4 linked regions of the Homo sapiens genome follow. The protein of the gene in region 3 interacts with the protein of the main gene of each other region in a pairwise test. Each region holds a gene or a part of one and is shown on either strand. Other genes may lie near its edges.

What was found.
Region 1: the proteins of KRTAP4-4 (region 3) and ZNF440 interact in binary tests that used the Homo sapiens proteins (3 or more experiments, as listed by UniProt).
Region 2: the proteins of KRTAP4-4 (region 3) and GNE interact in binary tests that used the Homo sapiens proteins (3 or more experiments, as listed by UniProt).
Region 4: the proteins of KRTAP4-4 (region 3) and ZNF764 interact in binary tests that used the Homo sapiens proteins (3 or more experiments, as listed by UniProt).

Annotation. Positions count from the first base shown.
Region 1 is NC_000019.10:11,810,085-11,817,276, forward strand, and holds the start of ZNF440 (zinc finger protein 440), read left to right. Parts: upstream 1-4,188; 5' UTR 4,189-4,363; coding exon 4,364-4,366; intron 4,367-7,192. UniProt on the Homo sapiens protein: May be involved in transcriptional regulation.
Region 2 is NC_000009.12:36,248,436-36,255,462, reverse strand, and holds part of GNE (bifunctional UDP-N-acetylglucosamine 2-epimerase/N-acetylmannosamine kinase), read left to right. Parts: intron 1-6,065; coding exon of another isoform or gene 6,066-6,107; coding exon 6,108-6,271; intron 6,272-7,027. UniProt on the Homo sapiens protein: Bifunctional enzyme that possesses both UDP-N-acetylglucosamine 2-epimerase and N-acetylmannosamine kinase activities, and serves as the initiator of the biosynthetic pathway leading to the production of N-acetylneuraminic acid (NeuAc), a critical precursor in the synthesis of sialic acids.
Region 3 is NC_000017.11:41,159,149-41,165,753, reverse strand, and holds KRTAP4-4 (keratin-associated protein 4-4), read left to right. Parts: upstream 1-5,005; 5' UTR 5,006-5,062; coding exon 5,063-5,563; 3' UTR 5,564-6,105; downstream 6,106-6,605.
Region 4 is NC_000016.10:30,555,370-30,562,501, reverse strand, and holds the start of ZNF764 (zinc finger protein 764), read left to right. Parts: upstream 1-4,127; 5' UTR 4,128-4,319; coding exon 4,320-4,515; intron 4,516-4,655; coding exon 4,656-4,769; intron 4,770-6,391; coding exon of another isoform or gene 6,392-6,394; coding exon 6,395-7,132. UniProt on the Homo sapiens protein: Zinc finger protein that functions as a cofactor for steroid hormone receptors, such as NR3C1/GR.

The sequences.
Region 1 (7,192 bases), on a different chromosome or scaffold from region 3:
AATCACTTTTTTGAAGTGCCAGCCAAACTCTTCTTCAGAGAAGCCTGTTTGAAACCCCCTAGAGTCAAAACCTGGTACCACAGGACAGAGCAGCAATGAGTGACCAACCCCTGACTCTATGTGCAGATGACACATCCATCCCCAGATTAGGTATCAACATAAGTGAAAGGTACTGTCATTGCCTGTCATTTTTTTTTTTTTTGAGATGGAGTCTCACTTTGTCACCCAGGCTGGAGTGCAGTGGCACGATCTTGGCTCACTGCAACCTCTGCCTCCTGGGTTCAAGCTATTGTCCTGCCTCAGCCTCCCAAGTAGCTGGGATTACAGGTGCCCGCCACCACACCCGGCTAATTTTTGTATTTTTAGTAGAGACGGCGTTTCACCATGTTGGCCAGGCTAGTCTTGAACTCCTGACCTTGTGATCCACCTGCCTCGGCCTCCCAAAGTGCTGGGATTACAGGCGTGAGCTACTGCACCCAGCCCATTGCCTATCAGTTTTTATAGAGTGTCGCTTAGATCAAGAAAGAGATGGTAATACAGAGTTAGGTGTGTCTGAAACCAAACACGACCTCATCCTTCTCCCTTGAAGGCCAAATGCACTCTGAGAGTTTGGTTAGAGTACAAACAACGCCACCAACTTCACTCCAGATGTGATTTTCTACAGGAGGCGGGCACTGTGTTGGGATGGCCAGTGAAGGTAAGGAACACTAGAGGTGCAGGTTTAGGTGATGAACAGGACACAGCCTGGACATTATTAGCCTTGACTATGGAGGTGTCTTGATGTTTCTCAAATTGAGACCAGTCTGGCCAACAGGATACTGAACTGGTTTTCGATGGAAAAATTCATCTGTATAGGGATCTATTCGCTTCCTTTAAGTTTCAGTTTCGTTATGTGGCATTTAGCATGAGTGACTCCATTTTGGTCTGATCTGGTTTCTAAGTGCCTAGTGCAGAAGCTCAGTCCAAAACAATGGCCTCCCATAATGTTCATTTTAACATTTTCTTTATACTAATACATTATATCAGGTCACCTCAAATGTCACCTCCACAGAGGGTTCTTCCTCTCACCTCAGTTAGTCCTACTTCTTTCCATTCAGTTTTTTGTTACACTGCACTTTTTAGGATCTGGGAAATCTAATCAAAGTTCACAGGGTTTATTGCTTATTCTTTTTCTTTTTCTTTTTCTTTTTTTGAGACAGAGTCTCTCTTTGTCGCTGCCCAGGCTGGAGTGCAATGGTGTGATCTCGGCTCATTGCAACCTCCACCTTCCAGGTTCAAGCGATTCTCCTGCTTCAGCCTCCTTAGTAGCTGGGATTACAGGCATGCACCACCACACTCAGCTAATTTTTGTATTTTTAGTAGAGATGGGGTTTCACCATGTTGGCTAGGCTGGTCTCGAACTCCCAACCTCAGGTGATCCACTCACCTCAGCCTCCCAAAGTGCTGGGATTACAGGCATGACCACTATGCCCAGCCAGGTTCATTACTTTTTAAAAATCAATCTATGAAAAATTAAATTGGCCAGGCATGGTGCCTCAGAACCTGTAATCCCAGCACTTTAGGAAGCTAAAGTGGGAGGGTCACTTGAGGCCAGGAGTTGGAGAGCAGTCTGGGCAACACAGTGAAACCCCATCTGTACAAAAAATACAAAAATTCGCTGGGCTTGGTGGCGCACACCTGTGGTCCCAGGCTCTACTTGGGAGGCTGAGGTGGGAGAATTGCTTGAGTCCGGAAGATCAAGGCTGCAGTGAGCTCTGTTTGCACCACTGTACTCCAGCCTGGGTGACAGAGGGAGACCTTGTAAAAAAAAAAAAAGAAAGAAAGAAAGAAAGAAAGAAAGAAAGAGAGAGAGAGAGAGGGAGAGAGAGAAAGAAAGAAAGAAAGAAAGAAAGAAAGAAAGAAAGAAAGAAAGAAAGAAAGAAAGAAAGAAAGAAAGAAGAAAAGAAAAGAAAAATCATGTAAATGAAACCAAATTCAGTGATGTTACCTTAACTTTTTTTCTTTTTTCGGGTAGAGACAGGGTCCCACTATGTTGCCCAGGCTGGTCTCAAACTCCTGGCCTCAAGCGATCCTCCTACCTTGGCCTTCCAAAATGCTGGTATTACTGGTGTGAGCCACCACACCTGTCCTACCTTTATTTCTAATAACTGATATGCCTTACATTAAAAAGTCTTTTAGAAAACACCTTTGAGCCATTTTCCAGATAGGGGAAGTCAATGAAGCTCCCTCTTGTGGTGAGGGCGACTTTAACATCCACACATCCTGTCTGGGGGACTGGATTTCTGAGTTGTGCTGAGACTTAAGAGTGGAAAAAAAGTCTACTCTTTTTCCTCTGCTCTCACACAACACGGAATACTTCTGTGACCAAATGCAAATATTTGAGAAGTGTCCCCCACATGCCAAGCAAAGCATCAATTCTGCAACTGACTCCAGCTCGATGTCTTCTAGTTCCAACACTTTCTACCTTTACATAAGGTACAAAACTGCCTCAGAAATCATCTGACCATGTGTCCCGGTTTGCCAGTGATAATCCTTGATAGTACCTGTTGTCCCAACATAGTTTTTCATAGCACCTCATCTTGCCATGGTTATCTGTGTCTGAACAATGAATATGTATGAATACTTTCACACATAAGCAAAATTAGGTTTATTAAATGAAGTTTCCAGGAATGTTCAAATTTCAACACCTGATTTACCTTATCACAAGTTATGGCTGTGCTAATTTCTCCAGGAAATATTCACAGAATATTGAATTTATCATTGTAAGGTGTGGAGCAATGAAGATGCCCAAGAGGCCAGGCGCACACCTGTAATCCCAACACTTTGGGAGGCTGAGGCTGGAGGATCACTTAAGCTCAGGAGTTTGAGATCAACCTGAACAACCGAATGAGACCTCATCTCTACCAAAAATAAAAAACTAGCCAGGCATGGTGGCAGGCACTTGTAGTCCCACCTACTTAGGAGGCTGAGGTGGGAGGATTGCTTGAGTCTGGGAGGTTGAGGCTGCATTGAGTAGCCATCGCACCACTGCACTCCAGCTTGGGCGACAGAGTGAGACCCCGTCTCAAAAAAAGATGGCTAAAACATAATTTTTTTTTTTTTGAGATGGAGTCTCACTGTGTCTCAGGCTGGAATGCAGTGGCACGATCTTGGCTCACTGCAAACTCTGCCTCCCGGTTCAAGCAATTCTCCTGCCTCAGCCTTTCAAGTAGCTGGGATTACAGGCATGCGCCACCATTCCTGGCTAATTTTTGTATTTTTAGTAGAGATAGGATTTCACCATGTTGGCCAGGCTGGTCTTGAACTCCTGACCTCGTGATCCACCTGCCTCAGCCTCTCAAAGTGCTGGGATTACAGGCATGAGCCACCGCGCCCGGCCTGCCTAAATCATAATTTCTATGACAGAATTTCTCATTTACAGCTTCCCCTGAGACCATCTTTCATTTCAGTTAACCCTGCTCCTTGGGGGTTATATGTGAGATAAAAGTGCCATGCTATATCATGTTCCCTGGCTCAGTCCTACACAGCATGTCCTGAAAAATGGGTCTTCAGTCACTGTCAATGCACCAGGGATAGATATACATAGTACTGAGAGCCTCTAAATCTTTAATAAGTTCTGGCTTGGTTAGCTCCCTTACAAGGAAAACCTTGCTGGAGTCCATAGCAGTGTGAGGAAGCCTTGGCCATGCCTCATCCCATTTCCCGCACGCTGGAAGACATCTGCCTCTCTCTCCTGGTGCAGTCGTGCCTTGCCTGGTCTGGGCTCCCCTCCTGCTCTGAGGCAAGCGTATCTCTCCATTGAACACTGAGTCTGAAATGCCCTGCACACACTTGTGATCCCGTGCAGAAGGAAGGAGCAGGGACAGCCCCTTGAATGAGGAAGCTAACAGTGCCTCTTCTAACAATAAGGAGCAAGTCGCCTTGAAATGCAAATATCTGATGACCAGGGCTCAAGGAAGGCGCTCGCTTAGAGAGGCTGTTCGCTTAGAGAGGCTGCTCGCTTAGAGAGGCTGCTCGCTCAGAGACGCTGTGGCCAGAACAAGTCAGACATGATCTGCAGGACCCGGTTACCCAGGGCTTCTGCTGTCACTCAGCACGGAGGAGGCGGGGCCTGGCGCCCCATCCAATCAGGGGTGCTGGGGCGGGGCCCTGTCAACTGTCCATCCGGGGAAGGGGGAAGGGACAGTCGCCCTCCGTCCATTCCTTTAGTGCTGCGCCGACAGCGGTCAGGATCTCGGCTTTCTTGCTTCGAGAGGGACTAGGTGCCTCCACCAGAGCTTCTGTCGCTCTGTAACCTGCACTGTGACCTACACTAGTCGCGGGAGCCACGCAGAGGACGCCGGAACACCCTGGAAGCCGAGAAATGGTGTGTGTGAGGGGGCTGGCGTCCGGGCGACTGGGAGAGGGGCTGGAATCGGCCGGAACCGGCTGAGGCGGGACCCGGGCCTCCACGCGGCGACTCCGGGGTCGTGGACGCGAGTCCCCTCGGTCGCAGGGTGGGGCTGGGCCGGCAGCCGGGACCCCGGGCCTCCTGTCCCGTCCCTTCACGGCGACTGCGGCCCCGGCTCCGGAGCCTAATCTGGGCAGCTCCGCGTCTCCCCACATTATGCGGGGGCCACGGGAGGGATATGGGGGGATCCCGCCTCGGATATGGGGTTTGTTAGAAACAAGTGCCCGGTGCCGCAAAGAAAACCAGCATCTAGGCAGAAAATTCCTCAGCAAAGCAAATTTATTTCTACACAAGGGTGCAGCTTGCGCCAGTCACAAGAGCACAGCGAGCGGGGTAGGGCAGGGGTTTTTCTCCTTAACGCAGTTTCTAGCACTTCTGTGTCCTTTCCTCATTGGCTAGGGTTGGACCTCACAATCTAAACTAACTCGATAGGCTAAGGTTTAAAATTAAATAGGGTCTGGCCAGGCGCGGTGGGTCACGCCTGTAACCCCAGCACTTTGGGAGGCCGAGGCAGGCGGATCGCGAGGTCAGGAGATCGAGACCATCCCTGGCTAACACGGTGAAACCCCGTCTCCACTAAAAATACAAAAAAATTAACTGGGTATGGTGGCGGGCGCCTGTAGTTCCAGCTACTCGGGAGGCTGAGGCAGGAGAATGGCGTGAACCCGGGAGGTGGAGCTTGCAGTGAGCCGAGATCGCACCACTGTACTCCAGCCTGGGCAACAGAGCGAGACAACTGGGCAACTCCGTCACACACACACACACACACACACACACACACACACACACACAAATTAAATAGGGTCTATGAGACGGGAAGGAACAGGGACTGTCCGTTACTAGGCGGGAAGGCGTATCTGGACTTGTCTGGGCGCGGCAAAAGCGGGAAGGTTGTTTACAGAACAGGTAGCTAGGAGACAAGGAAGTCGGTCTCAAGAAACAAAGAACAGCTTACTAAAGCTTTTAGAAAAGTAATTTATCATCTCTGACAGGTTCGTGTGGGAGGAGTAGCGGTCTTTGGGGTCCCCAGTGCCCACTTTTTTCTGTTAAAAATTAAACTGAGGTACGTTAACAATTAAAGAGTTTAGGGCCGGGCGCGGTGGCTCACGCCTGTAATCCCAGCACTTTGGGAGGCCGAGGCGGGCGGATCAGGAAGTCAGGAGTTCAAGACCAGCCTGGCCAACATGGTGAAACCCCATCTCTACTAAAAATACAAAAATTAGCTGGGCATGGTGGCGCGTGCCTGTAATCCCAGCTACTTGAGAGGCTGAGGCAGAAGAATTGCTTGAACCCAGGAGGCGGCGGTTGCAGTCAGCCAAGACGGCGTCACTCCAGCCTGGCAACAGAGCCAGACTCCATCTCAAAACAACAACAACGATTCACGAATGAGAAACACCCAGTCCTGGCTTGTGGTTTGTCAACGGAAAAAGCCAAGCTATGTAAAATAAAGAAGTTTATTAGGAGCCGAATAGGAGAGCCGTTGGCCGAGGGAAACACAACCCCAAGCAGCCTGGAGTAAGTGGTCCCGAGGCAGCTCAAGACAGTTTGGTTTTATTCATTTCAGAGAGACAGGAATTGCAGGGAAAATCATGAATCAGTGCCTGGAAGGTGTAAGTTCCATTGGCAGAAAGGGTGGGACCTGTGGAAGGGGGGTTAGAAGGCACAGGTAGTTGAGGGATTCTGTAGGTGGCAGCTGGTTGAGAGTGTTGAATCTTTGTCTAAAGTTTGGAGGAGGTAGGAAGGAATGCTGAAGGAAGGGGGTCTGTTATCTGCCACTTCATTCCATCCCAGCCAAAAAACAGACCTGTTTCTCGAGATTTTATGAATTCTAAGGCGTAACTTTACCTTTGCCTTGCGTGGCCTTAGGTCTTGTTTGTAATTTGGTATCTTGTTGCCACAAGGAGTCTGTTTTTCCAGTCAGATAATGTCTGTTTTTACATGAATGTGCGTCAGTTGCTGCATGTAAACTCCTAAAGGGAGAGGGTATAAGGAGACCTGTCTCACCTCCCATCCTGTCATACAGAGGCACTCAATTTTCAGGGTTTTTTGGGGGTTCCCTTGGCCAAGAGCCAGTCACTTCACTTAGCTGGGAAGGTACTTTGTTTTTGTTTTTGTTTGAGACAGAGTCTCCTGTAGCCCAGGGTGGTGTGCAGTGGCTCTATCTTGGCTCACTGCAACCTCCACCTTCCGGGTTCAAGCGATTCTCCTGCCTCAGCTTCCCGAGTGGCTGGGATTACAGGCATGTGCCACCACACCCGGCTAATTTTTGTATTTTTAGTAGAGATGGGGTTTCACCATGTTGGCCAGGCTGTTCCTGAACTCCTGACCTCAAGTGATCCACTGGCCTCGGCCTCCCAAAATGCTGGGATTACATGTGTGAGCCACCTCACCAGGCCAGAAGGTATGTTTTTATTTTTAGTTTACAGGTTGAAGGCTGGACTTTTATAAGGTACATGAGGAGACAAACCAGATAAATGCTTGATTGGTTGCAGAGATGCAGTCACCTTATTTGGACTTGTCAACCCGAAATAATCGAAAGTTTCAGATTTCAACTGGAAGAGTTTATTCAAGCAAAAAGATAGCAATGGCCCATTTGGGAAAAACACAGACTCCAGAGAAATGGACTCAGTACTCCAAAATTGGAAGTTAAGTTCTTGCTTATATTACTGGGAAAAGAGGTCCTGATCAGATCCCAAGAGAGTTCTTGGATCTCATACAGGAAGGAATTCAAGACGAGTCGGA
Region 2 (7,027 bases), on a different chromosome or scaffold from region 3:
GCAAGGCCAAGGCAGATGACTTGAGGTCAAGAGTTCGAGAACAGCCTGGTTTAGTTGAAACCGCGTCTCAACTAAAAAAATACAAAAATTAGCCAGGCATGGTGGCGTGCGCCTGTAATCCCAGCTACTTGGGAGGCTGAGGCAGGAGAATTGATTGAACCCGGGAGGTGGAGGTTACAGTGAGCTGAGGTCGCACCACTGCACTCCAGCCTGGGCAACAGAGTGACACTCCGTCTCAAGAAAAAAGAAAAATACTGTGAGGCAAAACAAATCATTCATGGTTTGTCAATTTATATTTATTTTACAAAGAACAGTAAATGTTCCATCTGGCAGTACTAAAATGCCTCGTACTTACCAGTTACTCAAAGGTTATTCTACCTAAACTGAGAGCAAGCTGGCCATATGAGTAAACTGAAAAATAGAACAATGTTACCTAAGGCCAGGTTTATAGACAAGCTTGCCTTCATCTTGAACTCACTGGCAATCTGAGAAACCCAATTATTTTTTTTTGAGATGGAATCTCACTCTTGTTGCCCAGGCTGGAGTGCAGTGGCAGGATCTCGGCTCACTGCAACCTCCGCCTCCCGGGTTCAAGTGATTCTCCTGCCTCAGCCTCCCCAGTAGCTGGGATTACAGGCGCCTGCCACCATGCCTGGCTAATTTTTGTATTTTTAGTAGAGATGGGGTTTTGCCATGTTAGCCAGGCAGGTCTTGAACTCCTGGCCTCAGGTGATCCGCCCGCCTCGTCCTCCCAAAGTGCTGGGATTACAGGCGTGAGCCACTGCGCCCGGCCGAAACTCAATTCTTGAAAGCAGCTTTTTGCATTCTCTCAACTCAAGACTGTCCATTGTAAGTACTGATGAAAAGTGATTGCCTCCTTACAAAAGGAAATTTACTTGCCCCAGGCTGGATTTAAATTTTAATTTTTTTAAAGATAGGGTCTTGCTCAGTCTTTCAGGCTGGAGTGCGGTGGCATGATCATAACTCACTACAGCCTCAAACTCCTGGGCTAAAGTGATCTTCCTGCCTCAGCCTCCCAAATAGCTAGGACCGCAGGTGTGCACAACCACACTCAGCTAATTAAAAAAAATTTGTTTGTAGAGACAGGAGTCTTGCTATGTTGCCCAGGCTGGTCTTGAACTCCTGACTTCAAGGAGTCCTTCTTGCCTCAGCCTCCCAAAGTGCTGGGATTACAGGCATGAGCCACCATGTCCAGCCAGATTTCTTGTTTTTATTTATTTATTTATTTATTTATTTTGAGACAAAGTCTCACTCTTTTGCCCAGGCTGGAGTGCAGTGGTGCGATCTCAGCTCACTGCAACCTCTGCCTCCTGGGTTCAAGCGATTCTTGTGCCTCAGCCTCCCAAGCAGCTGGGATTACAGGCACGCGCTACCATGCCTGGCTAATTTTTCTTTTTCTTTTTTTGAAATGGAGTCTCGATCAGTCTCCCAGGCTGGAATGCAATGGTGTAATCTCGGCTCACTGCAACCTCCGCCTCCCAGGTTCAAGCAACTCTCCTGCCACAGCCTCCTCAGTGCTGGGATTGCAGGTGCACGCCACCACACCCTGCTAAGTTTTGTATTTTTAGTAGAGATGGGGTTTCACCATGTTGGCCAGGCTGGTCTCCAACTCGTGACCTCAGGTGATCCGCCCACCTCAGCCTCCCAAAGTGCTGGGATTACAGGCATGAGCCACTGTGCCCAGCCAAAGTTGAATGTTTTTGCTAAATTTTAGGGCTCTTATAACTCTTTGTATATTTGAAAAGCTGATGGCCAGCAATTTCCAAAATTTTGCACTTTTAGATTTGATATTTCCAATATCTTTAAATGTTCTCATTCTACCATTTGAGTCATAATTAAAAGCATTTTAAAAAGTAAGATTTGTGGCTGGGCGCGGTGGCTCATGCCTGTAATCCTAGCACGTTGGGAGGCCGAGGTGGGTGGATCATGTGAGGTCAGGAGTTTGAGACTGGCCTGGACAACATGGTGAAACCCCGTCTCTGCTAAAAATACAAAAAAATTTGGTGGGTGTGGTGGCGGGCACCTGTAATCCCAGCTACTCAGGAGGCTGAGGCACAAGAATCTCTTGAACTGGGGAGGTGGAAGTTGCAGTGAGCCAAGGTCATGTCACTGCACTCTAGCCTGGGCAACAGAGGGAGACTGTATTTTAAAAAAAAAAAAAAGTAAGCTTTGCCCCAACAGTTTATAGAATATGTTACCAATTTTGTAATATACGTTGTGTATGTGTGTATGTATACACATACATACATCATATATATACACATCATATATATATATATTTAGATAGAGACTTATTCTGTTGCCCAGGTTGGAGTGCAGTGGCACCATCTTGGCTCACCGCAAGCTCCGCCTCATGTGTTCAAGTGATTCTCCTGCCTCAGCCTCCCAAGTAGCTGGGACTATAGGTGTGTGCCACAACACCTGGCTAATTTTTTTTGTATGTTTAGTAGAGATGGGGTTTCACCATGTTGGCCAGGCTGTTCTTGAATTCCTGACCTCTCGTGATCCACCCAGCTCGGCCTCCCAAAGTGTTGGGATTACAGGCGTGAGCCATATATTTATTTATATTATCATAGTTTATCCATGGAAGGACAGATAGGAAACCAGTAACTGCTTCCAGGGAAAAGAACTAGCTAGCTGGGGAACACAGATGAAAAGACTTATTGCTACTTAACCTCTTGTGACTTTTCAATTTTAAACCATGTGAATATACTACCTGATCAAAAATTTAGTTAATTAAAATTATTTTTTAAAACCTCCCCTTAAAAAGGCATTTTACCTTAATTTTATTTTTAAGATTTAACTTCTTTCCTTGAAAAAGCTTTGACTTTTTAAGGTTTTTTAGGTTTCTAGGTAACATTGTTGTATTTTTCACCATTTATTTATATGGCCAGCTTGCTCTCAGTTTAGGTAGAATAACCTTTGAGTAACCTGGTAAATAAGCATTTTAGTACTGCCAGATGGAACATTTACTGTTCTTTGTAAAATAAATACAAATTGACAAACCATGAATGATTTGTTTTGCCTCAGCAAATTAAATATTACCAACAATTTTTTCAGCTCAAATTTGATCACTGGAAGAAGGATTATATACAAGAACACTTACGACAACCATTTTTGGAAGAATATTTTTGTCTCTTTAAAGATTAGATAGTGCGGCCACGTGCGGTGGCTCATGCCTGTAATCCCAGCACTTTGGGAGGCCGAGGCGGGTGGATCATGAGGTCAGGAGTTCGAGACCAGTCTGGCTAGCATGGTGAAACCCCATGTCTACTAAAAATAGAAAAAATTAGCCCAGCATGGTGGCACATGCATGTAATCCCAGCTACTCGGGAGGCTGAGGCAGGAGAATTGCTTGAACCCAGGAGGCGGAGGTCGCAGTGAGCCGAGATTGCACCACTGCACTCCAGCCTGGGTGGCAGAGCAAGACTCTGTCTCAAAAAAAAAAAAAAAAAGATCAGATAGTGCTTGGGTCTTCTGAATATAACTCTCTTGGTGGAATGCCCGTTTCGTTATATTGTAAGTGTTTGCCATTGGGTGAAATTAGCTTTTACTGGGGATTATAAATTCAGAGTGGACCTAATGATGGGACCGTTTGCATGGTCACAGAATTTTAGCCTAAGAGAGTGTTGAGGTACCAACAGCAGAGGGCTACTGATGGAATTTCCAGTGAATTTCAGAGTTTACCCTCATCTAAAGGATGGCACCCCTAGAATTGGAATCCTTACTGAAGTGTCTCTGGATTCCTGATTACAAGTTCTAAATATTGATACACTTACTGAAACATGAACATTGAGATCAGAGTCCATGAGGTGAAATTTTATGTTGATTTAGAGAAGTTTAACATGTTCCAAGTCTGGCTCAGTGGTGTATGCCTGTAGTTCCAGCTACTTAGGAGGCTGAGGTGGGGGGGTTGCTTGAGCCCAGGAGTTCCAGGCTGCAATGAGCTATGATCGTGCTTGTGAATAGCTACTGCACTCTAGCTTGGGCAACATAGCAAGATCCCATCTCCAAAAATGTAAAAACTTTTTAAAAAATTCCATAAAACAAATCTCTTATTCCTTGCCCCTGATTTTACTTTTTGAATGGAGGGTATAGCATGGCAGGGAGGGATGAGCGAGCAGTGGAGCTGAGCAACAGTATATCTGTGAATGGGAGGGCCATAACGCTCAGAGCGAGGCAGCAACTGAGAAACGTGGGGGAGGAGGACCTGAGGTTTGTGTGAAGCCTTTCCAGAAAGGATGACACTTAGATGGAGTTTTGAAGGATGAGTAGAAGACCAGCAAGGAGGAAAGGAAGTTTTAGGAAAAAGTAGGTGGCATCTATAAAGGTATAGATATACGGAGATTCACTAGTTGAACTGGAGGCAGTTTGGTATGGCTGGCACTTTGGCACAGAGAAGGGTAATTTTAGGCAGGGAAGAGATGGTGGAAAGGAAGATCACTTTGAAAGTTTGTAGGAGGCCGGGCGCAATGGCTCTTGCCTGTAATCCCAGCACTTTGGGAGGCCGAGGTGGGTGGATCACTTGAGGCCAGGAGTTCAAGACCAGCCTGGCCAACATGGCAAAACCCCATCTCTACTAAAAATACAAAAATTAGCTGGGCATGGTGGTGGGCACCTATAATCCCAGCTACTCGGGAGGCTGAGGCAGGAGAATTGCTTGAATCTGGGAGGCGGAGGTAGTAGTGAGCCAAGCTCGTGCCACTGCACTCCAACCTGGGCGACAGAGTGAGACTTTGTCTCTAAATAAATAAGTAAGAAAGTTTATAGGAGACAGGCAAACCACTTGACAGCTGTTAAGATCGTCCAGACCTAAAATGAGGGACTGGACTAGGGGAAGTCCTTGTATGGATGAAGAGGAGGAGATAGATTTGAAAGATATTTAGGGGGTGGAATTGACAGCATTTTGGAGATATGGGGTGAAGAACAGAAAAGACAAGGATTTGAAGGCATTTGGATGAATGAAATTGCATAACTCAGAGAACAATTGAGGAGGAACAGCTTCCGAAAAGAAAATGAGTTCAGTTTGGGACACTGACTTTAAGGTGTTTATAGGACATACAGCAGGAGATATCTGATAGGCATTTGGAGTTGTCAGTTTTGTTGGCACTGGTGTGTAGGTACTAATGAGGGCTTGAAGGTCAGGTTTTTATCTTACTCATCTTTCTCCTGCCCAGCATTAATCACAATACCTTGTATTTAGGAAGTGTATAGTGTGAGAGTGAATAGCCTGTGTTCCTTATGAGACATGATCTGGAATGTTGGGGCAGTAATTTTCCCTCTCAAGACCTGTGTTTCCCTTTCTATAAAGTGATGGAGTTGAACTAGATCAGTGGTTCTCAACAACTGATTTTGCAACAACCTACTATGTTGGGCTCATCTGTGAGTTATGGCAAGTAATTTTTAATAATAAAGAGCTGATATTTCCTCACCTTTTAAACAAGAGCTGATTTATATCACTCCTTCTTAATGGCATTCCAGTGTGTTTTCTTGAGTGTGAGAGGATGGGGTGGTGTTACAGTTAGTTTGCTGGAGTTTCTTCTTCTTTTTTTTTTTTTGAGATGGAGTCTCGCTCTGTCACCCAGGCTGGAGTGTGGTGGTGCGATCTCAGCTCACTGCAAGCTCCGCCTCCTGGGTTCACGCCATTCTTCTGCCTCAACCTCCCGAGTAGCTGGGACTACAGGTACCCGCCACCACGCCCAGCTAATTTTTTTTTTTGTATTTTTTAGTAGAGACGGGGTTTCACCACGTTAGCCAGGATGGTCTTGATCTCCTGACCTCGTGATCTGCCCACCTCGGCCTCCCAAAGTGCTGGGATTACAGGCGTAAGCCACCACTCCCAGCCTTGGAGTTTCTTAACTCTGGATATACCAATGGGAGAGTCACACATAAGTGGAGGTGCAAAAAAAGATTAAGAATCACTGTACTAAATAGTGGTTAAGGACTTGAAACTGAAAATTTCTATTTCTGATTTAGAGAAGTTTAAAGTTTAGTTATATCTAGGAGTTATTCTGATTATAAAGTTTTTATTTTGGCAATTTCAGGAACTCTATTTTAAGAACCTCTCAAAACGAAACAAGCAAATCATGGAGAAGAATGGAAATAACCGAAAGCTGCGGGTTTGTGTTGCTACTTGTAACCGTGCAGATTATTCTAAACTTGCCCCGATCATGTTTGGCATTAAAACCGAACCTGAGTTCTTTGAACTTGATGTTGTGGTACTTGGCTCTCACCTGATAGATGACTATGGGTAAGATGAAAGCATTTTCTTATTCTTCATTGCAACAGTGTGCTAGAAGGAGCTTGGGTTTTGTAGCCATATGGGCCCAGCTTCAAATTCCTGTTCTGCTGCTTAGTTTTTATGTGGCCTTAGAGTAGTCACTTAGCATCTCTGAGCCTCAGTTTCCTCATTATATAATGTAGTGAAAACTTATATTGTAAATTATTGTGAGGAATGGAGATCATGATATAGAGCATCCATCACAATGATGCCGCTTAGTAGATGATTGATAAATGGTAGCTATAAATAATATTACTGTTTGTTATTAGTTGTTACATTCAAACAAATGCCACTTATAAATACATATTGTATGAGTATAATAATGTGATTCCATGTAAACTGTTTTGTGAGCTGTAATGGCAATCTTTAAAACTGGTTTATAGGCCAACAGCATATAAAGTAGTAGATATGGAACAAGATTTTAAAAATCTAATCTGCAAGGTAAAGTAGAGAGTTACATTACTGTCACCATTGACATTTATTTTGCTGACATTAGGTTTGTTATTAATCACAGGCTACATTTAAAAAGTGAAAGTTGGGCCGGGCACGGTGGCACATGCCTATAATCCCAGCACTCTGGGGGGCTGAGGTGGGTGGATCACCTGAGGTCAGGAATTTGAGACCAGCCTGGCCAACATGGTGAAACCCTATCTCTACGAAAAATACAAAAAAAAAAAAAATTAGCCAGTTGTGGTGGCGCATGCCCGTAGTCCTAGCTACTCGGGA
Region 3 (6,605 bases):
TAAGGGATTACTCCAATATAACTTTTAAAAAGTTTTCTCACTATATTCATGGGTTAGCCACTATTCCATATTATCTTGTAAGCCACAGTATGTTCGTTATAACCCAAACCTACTGTGACTTGTTAACTGTTAAAAAATAATTACTATATAATTCTTTGTATAAGCTGGGGGGTAATTGAATGATTAAAAAATTAATAAGAAATAGGCTATTTCAAAAAATGGAAATTTTTTTGTTATTAATTATTAATCAATGCAGAAAATACAATTTTCCATGAAGAAAATATTAGCAAAAACTTCTAGCTGAATAGCAGAAAGAATTTGGAATTTAAGTTTGGAAGGCGTATCAAGGATATGTTCATAATGGGATACAGTTGCATATTCTTAATTGCTTATTTTGCATGCTTTGATGAATATTGAATACTATTATCCATGTAACATAAATATTTAATTCCCTTCATAGTTCTGAAATGGAATTCAGGGCACTTAAAAAATCCCATTAACTAGAGTAAAAATAATTGTGTATTAAAATTATTGTAAGAAGGAGAACAAATCAAGAAAAAGATTTATAAAAATATGTGAAAATGCCTGACTTGCATGCAAATTACATGGAGGGAAAAGAAATGAATGCTTGCTGTGAACTTACCCTTTGGATCATTTTTAAGTTTAGCTCATTTATAAAAATAAATATTTCAGTACCCGATTTTTTTCCCAATTTACATTGCTTGTAGAAATATAGTTGGTGAATTGCATAAGATTCGGACTACTAAGAACTCAACAAGAACATAAATGCAGAGCCCCACCTTATTGTCTCCGAGTTTTACAGAAAGTATTTTAAACAAAAGTCTTATGAACTACTCAATAAGATAAGGAAAATAAAGTACATGTATAACTATTGGAAAAATGATGACAGAGTGTATGATATGCCTGATGTGTGTTTCTAATTGAAAGATAAAAGTTATTTAAAACACTGTAAATGCTCACAAACTGGCCAATTACCCAATCTTAAAAAGAATAATCTCTGAATTTTCCTATATACATATCCACACATCGAAAAAAAAATCCCATGTAGTTAAACATAGACACATGAAAAATAAGAATAAATATATGAAAATATCCAAAAAAAAAGCATGCTGTCTTTTACTACCAATTAGCCTCTTTTTTTTTTACTTTTGTAAATAACGATAGATTTTGAAATAACTATAGATTAACATGAAGTTGAATAAGACAAAGTTCCCTGTACCCTTCACTCAGTTTCCCTCAGTGGTTGCTTCTCATAGGATCATAGTACATGTCAAATCCCAAAATCTGACATTGGTACTAAATTCTAGGGATCTAGTAACTAGCATGGTGATTATAGTTAATAATACTGTATTGAGTACTTGAAATTTTCTGAAAAAGTAGATCTTAATTGTTCTCATTACACACACAGGAAACAATAACTACGTGAGGTGATAGGTATTAACTAACTTGGTTGTGATAATCATCTCACAATATATACATATCAAGGCATCATGTTGTACCCTTGATATACATAAAATTTTATTTGCCAACTCTACCTCAATAAAGCTGGGGAAAAATGAAAGTGCTGAAGTACTAGAAGAAATCGTGAGAGATTTCTAAACATAATGCAAATTTACATTAAGCAAAACACACACGCTCACCTTACAAAGAAAAAAAATAGTCAATTCATGTAAATAAAAGTGATCTCCACTGAGTCATCGGTAGGTACCAGTCATCAGGGTTCTTCAAGGATGTGATTCTTTTCCCATAATTCAAGTTCTCGAGGAAATCTTAGAGTTGTTCTCATACACCATAAACGGGCTCACCAGGGTTTTAACCCCGTAACAGCTTGGAACCTGCTTCTGTTCATTCTGACTGAGGACAAAGGCTCAGGACCTCAATACGATGCTGTGTCTGGGTGCATCAGAGCCAGTGCAGACTCAGAACACCAGCCAGTGCTGAAGCAGGGGCCCACTCAGGAGCCAGATTGTTATCATCCTGGTTGTGTAAGCCTGGAAATCAGGACCAGGGCAGCAGTAGAAACTGGTTAACAGTATAACATTATATTCCACTTATTAGACTTACATGGACCTGAGTGCAGAGAGGGAAGCTCAAAGTAATTTCATCCAATTCCCTCCATCTGGCTCTTGCATGTGCCTCAGTCAGAAACACCAGCTCACACTGAAACCCCCTCCCCTGATTATCTCTAGAGGCAGCCATTTCATAAAGCACCTTCCTCATGTTGTGTCAGATTTTGTTTCTCCCTAGGAACATCCTATCTTCCCTATCCTATATCAGCCCATGGCAGCCATCTGAGGAAGTCCATTCTCATACAGAGCCCCTTCAGGCTGCACTGCCATTGCTTTGTTCCACTTTTCTCCTTTTTAGGTTACATTTCCAAAGTGTTTCCATTTGTTCCTCATTGATCATAATGCCACCCTCACAGCAACTTTGCTTTTCATAAACCCCAATTTATCTTTATCCTTCTAGCCTGGATTGAAATGCATTTTCCAGATGTGTTCTGAACACTCTTGGAGGATTAGAAATGCCTCATCTACCTTAGTAAATGTTCCACTTTCATGAATGTTTCAAGTTTGCATGCAGGAGTTAACACAGTGTTAGTGGCAGTAAGTGGTTGGCAGTAAGTGTGAACTAATACTGAGGTTACTAAAGTGTGACACACCTAAGTAATCCTCATCATAAACTGCTTCAAGGTCTTCTTATACACATACAGTGGTTGTTTCTAGACGAGAAGTTCTCAACCTGCCTTTCTACTGCATGCCTGCAGTAATAGAGCTCATTGTGGTGATCCAGGTTGAGTACCCCATATCTGAAATGCTTGGCACCAGAAGTGTTTCAAATGTCAAGTTTTTTCAGAGTTGGAATATTCGCATTATACTTGTTGAGCATCCCTAATGCAAAAACATGAAATCCTAAATGTTCTATTGGGCATTTTCTTTGAGCATCATATAGGTACTCAAAAAGGTTTGGGTTTTGGAGAATTTCAGATTTCAGATTTTCAGATAAGATGTCCTCAACTTGTAATATTCTATCTGGTGAAGGGATGCTAAGAGGGGACACAACCTTAGGGTGTGTGTATAGTTAAATAAATACTCCCAGTAAATTTAGATATATTCACTCCTCCCCAATCTCGTTTGCCATGCTGCATTAATAACCACTCATTTGATCTACAATTGGTTCTGATATTTCATCTTGTTAGGTTTGATTCCTTGTGAGAGTATTTCTGTAGTTTTGGAAACATGGTTCTGCCATTTGGCATATTCACTTTTTCTTACCTTCATGGCCCCCAAATATTTAGATGAGCATGTTTTATGGAAAGACCCTCAGCAGAGTTGGGGTGTCCATAGTATCCTCAGAGAGACCAGTCCAAACAGAAATTGCTAACCCAAGAGCATCCCAAAGTGGAGGGTGGCACAAAGACAGGAAGTTTCTGCCTTCTTCCTTGGGTTTCTTTAACATCCAGGTTTGGGGGAGTGTGTGTGTGTGTGTGTTTGAGTGTGTGTGTGTGTGTGTGTGCATAATATTCCTAAGGTAAAGGGCCTTAGGAGATAAAGGTAAATACATATATATATAAATATATATATTTCTAAATATGTTATTGTATATATTATATATATATTTATACATACTATTAAATACAAACATATATGAAGAATATATATTATATATTCATAAATATGTAAATATATATATTCCTATATTACCTATATATAAGGTTCTCTATCTACCCATCTATATATGTATAATATATATATATATTCCTAAGGTCCTTTGGCAGAATATATATATTCCCCCAAACCTGTGTGTGTGTGAGTGTATATATATATATACATATACATCAAAAGAAAATTATGGGCCTAGAAGAATTAAAATCACCCAAGGTCAGACATAATGTGTGTGTATGTGTGCGTGTGTGTGTGTATATATATATATATATATATATATACACACACACACGCACACATACACACACATACATACACACACATATATGTGTGTGTATGTGTGTATATTTATATATAGTGTGCATATTTATATATAGTGTGTATATTTATATATAGTGTGTATATACGTGTGTGTGTATACTATATATAGTATATATATGTATATATATAATATATATTATATATATATATATATATTATATATATATAGCAAGGACACTGGGTCCTTTACCTTAGGTTGGCAAGTAAACCTTAGAAATAGAGGAGATGACTCAATGTGATTGTTAAAGCCAGAGAGACAGGAAGGAAAAGTCAGAAGGAAAATCAGCCCCTCAGAGCAGAGAGCGGAGGGACCTGAACCTTTTAGTATAGCTGATCTCTGTAGCCAATTTCCCCTAAAGGCCCTGAAACTGAGTTTTGGAGTGTTGTTTCTCAAGAAAAAGAAGCATCGATAATTCATGACTTAGATGTCCACCTTAAAACAATTCTGCTTTCCCCAGTAGAACATCTAGAAAATGGGTCATGATTCATTGTATGGAAGGTGGCAAGGAATATATCCTAATAGTATTTGTTTTCATGCCACTGGTCACCTGTTTCACATTCAAACCTTCATTGCTCACTTGATCTATAACAAACATGCCATGAGATTAAAGCACAGCTTTCTCCTCCTGAGTCACCAAAAGAAAATTACGGGCCTAGAAGAATTAAAATCACCCAAGGTCAGACATAATGTATTAAGGAAAATGAGGCTGCAGCACATGGTACCTGCAGGCAGATGTCACATGGCAGCTCAAGGAGGAAGCTGCAGCAAGAGGCACACAAGAGGTTGTTCAAGAAGAGCTGACCTGAAGAATCCTAACACACCAGGGGAAGGAAATAATGCTTTTCTCCATGTTGACAAATTTAAGCAGAAAAACAAACTTGCCTAATTTGATAATTGCCTGCTCATCAGAACAAACAATGACAAGGAAAGAGTGCTGCATCCGATGACATCAGCCCTGAGCAGGGTATAAAAGAGGATCTGGGGCAAGGAGACTTCCAAGCCTTCCAAACCCTCCTTCCTGGAAACCCACCCAGAACCTCCACCCTCTGACACCATGGTCAACTCCTGTTGTGGCTCTGTGTGCTCTGACCAGGGCTGTGGCCTAGAGAACTGCTGCCGTCCCAGCTACTGCCAGACCACCTGCTGCAGGACCACCTGCTGCCGCCCCAGCTGCTGTGTGTCCAGCTGCTGCAGACCCCAGTGCTGCCAGACCACCTGCTGCAGGACCACCTGCTGCCACCCCAGCTGCTGTGTGTCCAGCTGCTGCAGACCCCAGTGCTGCCAGTCTGTGTGCTGCCAGCCCACCTGCTGCAGACCCCAATGCTGCCAGACTACCTGCTGTAGGACCACCTGCTGCCGCCCCAGCTGCTGCAGGCCCCAGTGCTGCCAGTCTGTGTGCTGCCAGCCCACCTGCTGCTGCCCCAGCTACTGTGTGTCCAGCTGCTGCAGACCCCAGTGCTGCCAGACCACCTGCTGCAGAACCACCTGCTGCCGCCCCAGCTGCTGTGTGTCCAGGTGCTACAGGCCCCATTGTGGCCAGTCTCTATGCTGCTAGCCCATCTGCTGGCAAACCACCTGCTACAGGACCACCTGCTGCCACCCCAGCTATTGCATTTCCAGCTGCTGCCAGCCTTCCTGCAGTATCTCTAGCAGCAGTAGCTCCTCCTGCTGTGGCTTCAGCTGCTGCAGGCTCTCCTGCTGCATCTCCAGTTGCTGCCGCCCCAACTGCTGCCAGACCATGTGCTGCCGCCCAACCTGCTCTAGTGCTTCTTGCTGCTGAGGCTGTCATCTGGACTCACCAGATTCTCATCAACCAGCATTCTTGATGTAGCTCATCTATGAGCTGAGTTATGGGAAGCTAGTTGGAAAACTTCAGTTCCAACCAATTCTTAGATTGAATCTGGCCTCCAAATATATGCTCCCCCCACATTTTACCTCTCTACCAAATGAACATAAGTTGTAATTTGCTCTGAAATCTGTCAACTATCTTAATTGAAATATTTGCTCTCTGCCATAATTTCTCATATGGAGCTATTCCATTTTAAACAAATATTTATCTAAATAAATCTTAAATAAATTTTCAGGCATAGAAATATACAGATACTGTGTCTCATTATTTTTCTTTTTTGAGTGTGGTCAATTACCAGTCAATTTTTCTGTTGTTCTTCTCTGCAGAATGTAATTTCAGGGGCACCACCTCTATTTCCTCAGCACACTTTATTCTAATATACAATGGTGGTTTCTTAGAGCAAGCACCTGGAACTCTCTTCTTGAAGAGTTTCTCTAGCCAAGGAGCAAGCTCTGGACTGTAGAGTTAAAGCCTCTTGGAATAGTATTCAACAAATGAGTGAGAGTTGGTGAACACATGCTTTAGTTATTTCTCCTCCAGTTGGGAGCATGTTGTACCAGCATGTCAGTGGTCCTCAGAGACACCAAATTCCAGCTACCTACAGGGCTATTCTGATCATTAACTCATCTTGTATTCACTTCCCTCCCTTTCCTGGAGCATTTTTCGTGTTCCATACAGCACTTCTTGGGACCACCTCCCAAATATACTCCTGGGTCGGCTCCAGTGGGGACCCAATCTAAGACACCAG
Region 4 (7,132 bases), on a different chromosome or scaffold from region 3:
ATTGCTTGAACCAGGGAGGCAGAAGTTGCAGTGAACGGAGATCGCGCCACTGCACTCTAGCCTGGCGACAAAGTGAGACTCTGTCTCAAAAAAAAAAAAAAAAAAAAGACTCCGTCACTGAGTGGGCCTCCTCGAAGGGCCTCCTCTAAGGGACTGGGAAGGGGACGTCAGGCCCTCGGTCGAGAATCTTGGACCGGTTTCCCCTCCCCTGCAGCCTTTGCTGCCACCTGCCTGAGCCCAGGTCAAAGCGGCCGCACCCATCTTAACTACGGGCAAGAGGCGCTGCCAAGGCCGCCTGGGAGGAACAGCAAGAGAAGACTTTTCCAGCAGGAACAAACTAGGTCAGCAACACCGGATCGATATTCAAGCTGTTCAATGCCTTTCTCTAAAATGAAGAGAAGCTGGACTGTCGCCAGCCATCTTTTCTTCTTCTTTTTTTTTTGAGACAAGAATCTCACTCTGTCACCCAGGCTGGAGTGCAGTGGCACGACCTCAGCTCACTTCAACCTCTGCCTCCCGGGTTCACACGCTTCTCCTGCCTCAGCCTCCCAAGTAGCTGGGATTACAGGCGTGTGCCACTATGCCCGGCTAATTTTTGTATTTTTAGTAGAGACGGAGTTTCACCACGTTGGTCAGGCTGGTCTTGAGTTCCTCACCTCAAGTGATCCACCCGCCTCGGCCTCCCAAAGTGCTGGGATTACAGGCGTGAGCCACCGTGCCCAGCCGCCAGCCATCTTTTCTAAGAGCGCTTTCATTTTTCTGGACTCCGGAACCACAGAGTTGCTCGCCGTCCTCTCTAGGCCCCACCCGAAGCTACTACCGGTCGTCGAGGCGTCCGTGGAACCTCCTGCACCCTACTCCCAGGGCAAACCCCCAGCGTCCCTCCGGGAGCCGCGGAGCCACTGGCCGCGCTCATGGCTCCAAGCCAATGAACCAGGGAAGGTGGAAGGGACGGAGACTGGGAAAGTGTCTGAGGACCGAGAGCTCCGCGGAAACGGCCGACTGCCGCTTCCTGGCGCAGTGGGGGTGTCTGCGGTATAGGGATGTTCGCGTCCTGATCCGGGACGCGATGCCGCGACCTGCGGCCACCTAGACGCGCTCAGCGGCGCCCGCCCCACCCGGATCCCCGAAAAGGGAAAGAAGTGGCTCTCCTCACTTATGCGGCAGGTTGAGCTGTTTCCTGAGATTCCCGCCAGATCACCCTCCCTGAAGTTCCCTCCAGGCTCCTCCACAGGGGCTCCCCTGGACCTCCTGTAAAACATTCACAGCCTGGTATACTGATATATTCTGAGTTAAAAACAGAGAAATTGTAGTTTCAGAAGGAGCAATCCGACCTGTTTCTTCTGCATGGAGCATGCCAGAAACCTTACTCTGGGGGAGTATCCTTCTGTACCAGGGCAAGAAAACAGCCCTGAGAAGCCACAAGGGACCAGAATAAACATACGTAACAAAGTCATCTGTATCTTGTACCTGTTTGACAACCCCCTGATACATATTCTAGTTACTCACTGCCCTAGCCAAATTTTCTTTGTCCTGTCATTTCTTTTTTCTTTTATTCTTTCTTTCTTTTATTTTTTATTTTTTATTTTTGAGACCGAGTCTTGCTCTGTCGCCCAGGCTGGAGTGCAGTGGCGCAATCTCGGCTCACTACAACCTCTGCCTCCCGGGTTCAAGCTATTCTCCTGCCTCAGCCTCCCAAGTAGTTGGGACTACAGGCACGCACCACCATGCCTGGCTCATTTTTGTATTTTCAGTAGAGACGGGGTTTCACCATGTTGGCCAGGATGGTCTCGATCTCTTGACCTCGTGATCCGGCCACCTCAGCCTCCCAAAGTGCTGGGATTACAGGCATGAGCCACCGGGCCGGCCCTCTTCTTCTTTTTTTTTTAAACGAAGTCTCTCTCCCGCCCAGGCTGGAGTGTAGTGGCTCAATCTTGGCTCACTGCCACCTCTGCCTCCCAGGTTCAAGTGAGTCTCCTGCCTCAGCCTCCTGAGTAGCTGGGATTACAGGAACCCACCACCACCCCCAGCTACCTTTTTTTTTTTAATTTTTAGTAAGGACGGGGTTTCCTGACCTCAAGTGATCTGCCCACCTCGGCCTCCCAAAGTGCTGGGATTACAGGCATGAGCCACCGCGTCTGCCCACTGAAATTTTATTGTTCTTTGTCTAAAAAATATAAAAGCACCTGGCTTTGGGCACTTTTTCTGACTTCCCTCTCTTGTGAAGATCCCCATGTACATGTAAAACTAATACAATTGGTATAATTTTCTCGTTTGTCCACTGTCAATTCATTTGTTCTTATTTTACTTTAGTTTATTTTTATTTTTATTTTTTGAAGATAGGGTTTCACTAACTTGCCCAGGCTGATCTCATACTCTTGGGCTCAAGGGATCCTCCTGCCTTTGCCTCCCAGTAGTTAGCATTACAGGCGATTCTCAATCTGGGCCTACATTCAACTAAAGAGCCCACCAAGAGCTAAAAGGCAGTTGGAGGCAACTCTGACTCCCATACACAGTAAGGGAGGAGACCATCCCTCATATTGTCTTACGCCCAATTTCTGCCTCCAAAGAAAGAAGAAGTAAAAACTCAAAGGCAGAAATGGAATCCACAGGCAGACAGCCTGGCGCCACACCCTGGGCCTGGTAAAGATCGACCTCTGACCTAATCAGTTTTGTTATTTATAGATTACAGACATTGTATAGAAAAGCACTGTGAAAATCCCTGTCCTGTCCTGTCCTGTTCTAATTACCAGTGCCTGCAGCACCCAGTCACATATCCCCTGCTTGTTCAATGGATCACGACCCTCTCACGGGGACCCCCTTAGAGTTGTGAGCCCTTAAAAGGGACAGGGATTGCTCACTCGGGGAGTCGGTTTTTGAGATGTGAGTCTTGCCGATGCTCCCAGCCGAATAAAACCCTTCCTTCAACTCGGTGTCTGAGGGGTTTTGTCTGTGGCTTGTCCTGCTACAACAGGACATGTATGAAGTCACGTGGAGCACAGAATAGACCATCAGAAAGTGAGAGAGAGGTCTGGGGGAGAGTTGGTGACATTTACTAGATAAAGACCCTAGGGGAAGCAGATTGGGGCAAGAAAGGGATGAGTTGGATTTGAGTAGAGGAGCCTTGGGCCATCTGTCCAGGGGCAGGATGTGAGGGGAGGTGAGAGCCCGGCTGCAGCTACAGGGAGACTGGCAATTGGGAGGCGTCCTGAGCAGCACATGGGAGAAGCTCCTAGAAGAGAGGACCCTCTGACTTTCTCAACCTTACCCTACTCTCCCCACTGCCTCCGCCATCTAGAAACTTCCAGAATTTCAGGCCCCAACAAGCCTACGATGGAGGAGGTTCTCCTGTATCCACTCCTTTTTCTTTCTTTCTTTCTTTTTTATTTTTGAGACAGAGTTTCGCTCTGTCGCCCAGGCTGGAGTGCGGTGAGGCAATCTCGGCTCACTGCAAACTCCGCCTCGCGCGTTCAAGCGATACTCCTGCCTCAGCCTCCCCAGTAGCTGGGATTACAGGTGCACGCCACCACACCTGGCTGTTTTTTTGTGTGTTTTTAGTGGAGACGGGGTTTCACCATGTTGGTGAGGCTGGTCTCGAACTTCTGACCTCAGTTGTTCCGCTGGCCTCGGCCTCCCAAACTGCTGATTACAAGCGTGAGCCACTGCGCCACGCCCACTCCATTGGTTTTTTTACACTCAACATTGGGAAGAGACTGCTGTTGCCCTGTTTCTGAGATAACAAGGACAAAACGAGAGAGTGATGAGCTGGAGCCCGATTATAAAACGGTCCACAAACGAAAACTAATGCCTGAGTTCAGTAAGGCCGGGAGGCCAGCTCACTCCCGCGAGGCGCTCTTTTGTTCGTGCAAACCGGGGCGGAGCTCTCTGCTGCACCGCCTCGCCGGGCCGGGGCGGAGCTCTCTGCTGCACCGCCTCGCCGGGCCGGGGACTAAACATGCGCGGCTAGTTTTCAAGGCCGGCCTCTGTATTAGTCACCGCGGCCATTTTGGATGAGGGTACGGAGAGAACGCGGACTGGAGATACCGGGGGCGTTGTCTTGGGCACGACTGCGTAGGGGCAAAGGTCGAGTACCCGCGCCGCCGCCATTTTTTATGAGGGCATATTCCATTTCTGATTATACACCCGCTGCCATCGGCACCGTTAGTTTCCACGCCCTCTAGTGCGCCCTCGGGGGCCCTAGTAACCTCCCTCCTTCCCTTGGGCCCGGGCCGGGGAGGCTTTCTCGGGCGCAGGAGGTTCCGCAGGCCCAGGCCAGGCCAGGGGAGGCAGCCGATCCGTCGTCGGGGTTGACAGTTACCATGGCGCCGCCTCTGGCCCCGCTCCCTCCCCGGGACCCAAACGGGGCCGGACCCGAGTGGAGGGAGCCGGGGGCTGTGAGCTTCGCGGACGTGGCCGTGTACTTCTGCCGGGAGGAGTGGGGCTGCTTGCGGCCAGCGCAGAGGGCCCTGTACCGGGACGTGATGCGGGAGACCTACGGCCACCTGAGCGCTCTCGGTGAGAGCCCCACCTGCTCGCCTGAGCCCTGCGCCCCCACAGGCCCTGCCGCGCCTCTGGGAGCTGCGCGTGAAGTTGGGGGCCCCGGGGCCGGGCAGGTGGCCTCCCCGCAGCGTGGGGTTTGCGTTCTTCTTCCCTAGGAATCGGAGGCAACAAGCCAGCTCTCATCTCCTGGGTGGAGGAGGAGGCCGAACTGTGGGGTCCGGCTGCCCAGGATCCGGAGGTGGCGAAATGTCAGACACAAACGGACCCAGGTGGAGTATCGGGTGCTCAGTCCCATGGGGACTTCTCTGTTCCTGTCCCATCCCGGTACCCTCTGCCACCTCCAGCTACCTGCTTAGCAGTTTCCTCTCTGAACTGCCTTCTCAACTGCGACGACGAGGCTGAGCCCCTGCGTGGCTCCCAGATGCAGCCTAGAAAGGAGCTGTGATGGGGGCTCTGGCCCTGCCATACCCGCCTCTGAGTCCTCACCTCTGCGTGGTCACTACACTCTGGGGGCTTTTTTTGGTGTTTTTGTTTTAGAGACAGGGTCTCGCTTTGTTGTCTAGGCTGAGTGCAGTGGCGGCATCATAGCTCACTGTAGCCTGGAACTCCCGGGCTTAAGCAGTCCTTCCACCTGGGCCTCCAGAGTAGCTAAGACTGTACAGGTGCTCGCCACGAAGCCTGGGTAATTTTTTTTTTTAGACAGAGTTTTACTCCGTTGCCCAGGCTGGAGTGCAGTGGTGCCATCTCAGTTCACTGCAACCTCCCACTCCCAGGTTCAAGTAATTCTCCTGTATCAACCTCCCAAGTAGCTGGGATTACAGGCGCCCGCCACCAAGCCTGCTTAATTTTTTTTTTTTTTTTTGAGACAGAGTCTTCCTCTGTCGCGCAGGCTGGAGTGCAGTGGCGCCATCTCGGCTCAGTGCAAGCTCCGCCTCCCTGGTTGACGCCATTCTCCCGCCTCAGCCTCCCCAGTAGCTGGGACTACAGGCGCCCGCCACCACGCCCGGCTAATTTTGTTTTTGTGTTTTTAGTAGAGATGGGGTTTCACCATGTTAGCCAGGCTGGTCTCGAACTTCTGACTTTGTGATCTGCCCGCCTCGGCCTCCCAAAGTGCTGGGATTACAGGCGTGAGCCACCGCGCCCAGCCAATTTTTTGTATTTTTAGTAGAGACAGGGTTTCACTATGTCGCCCAGGCTGGTCTTTAACTCCTGGAGCTAAGCGATTCGCCTGCTTCGGCCTTCCAAAGTGACCCACTGCGTCTGGCCTAATTGTTTTAAATTGTTATGTAATATATATATTTTATAGAGGGGGTCTTGGCTCTCGGTGTGTTGCCCAGGCTGGTCCTGAAATCCTAGGCTGATCCTCCTTCTCTACCTCCCAAAGCGCTGGGATTACCGCCTTGAGCCCCCACGCCCAGTCTCTTAAACTCTGTTGACTCTACCTCCACCTCAGGACCCACCCCTGCCGTTCACCTGCAGGCTGGTTCCTTTCTCCCCGTCCGCCCCCCTTTTTTTCTTTCATTTCTTGCCCTCAGCCTTTGCAGAGTATCCAGCCCCACTGAACTTGGCCATGCCCTCCTGGTTCTGCCTTTCTTGGTGCTGTTCCTGCTGCCTGGAACATCCTCAGGTGTCCGTTCCTCCTTCTGGATCAGGCCCAGATGTTCATGTCATCTCTGCCCTTCCCCCACCGTGACATTTCCCCAGCCCCGAGGCGGAATGGGCTGTTCTCTCCCTCCCGGCTCTGTCTGGCTCTGCAGCCGAGGAACAGGTGTCACTCCTCCATCTCCCAGGAGCAGCCGGGGATCCAGCAGGCCTGTCCCTGTCCACGCGGGCTGTGGGATTCAAGGACCAGGATGAGCCGAGCCTGAACTCTCCCCTCTTTATCTCTCAGCAGATTCCAGAAACAAGAAAAAGGAAAGACAAAGGGAAGGGACGGGAGCCCTGGAGAAGCCCGACCCTGTGGCCGCCGGGTCTCCTGGGCTGAAGTCTCCCCAAGCCCCCTCGGCCGGGCCCCCTTATGGTTGGGAGCAGCTGTCCAAGGCACCGCACCGGGGACGCCCCTCCCTCTGTGCCCACCCCCCTGTCCCCCGAGCTGACCAGCGTCATGGCTGCTACGTGTGCGGGAAGAGCTTTGCCTGGCGCTCCACACTGGTGGAGCACGTCTACAGTCACACTGGCGAGAAGCCCTTCCACTGCACTGACTGCGGCAAGGGCTTCGGCCACGCTTCCTCCCTGAGCAAACACCGGGCCATCCATCGTGGGGAGCGGCCCCACCGCTGTCTGGAGTGTGGCCGGGCCTTCACGCAGCGCTCGGCGCTGACTTCGCACCTGCGCGTCCACACCGGCGAGAAACCCTATGGCTGCGCCGACTGTGGCCGCCGCTTCAGCCAGAGCTCTGCCCTCTACCAGCACCGGCGCGTGCACAGCGGCGAGACCCCCTTCCCCTGCCCGGACTGTGGCCGCGCCTTCGCCTACCCCTCGGACCTGCGGCGCCACGTGCGCACCCACACCGGCGAGAAGCCCTACCCGTGCCCGGACTGCGGGCGCTGCTTCCGCCAGAGCTCGGAGATGGCAGCCCACAGGCGCACCCACAGCGGCGAGAAGCCCTACCCCTGCCCGCAGTGCGGCCGCC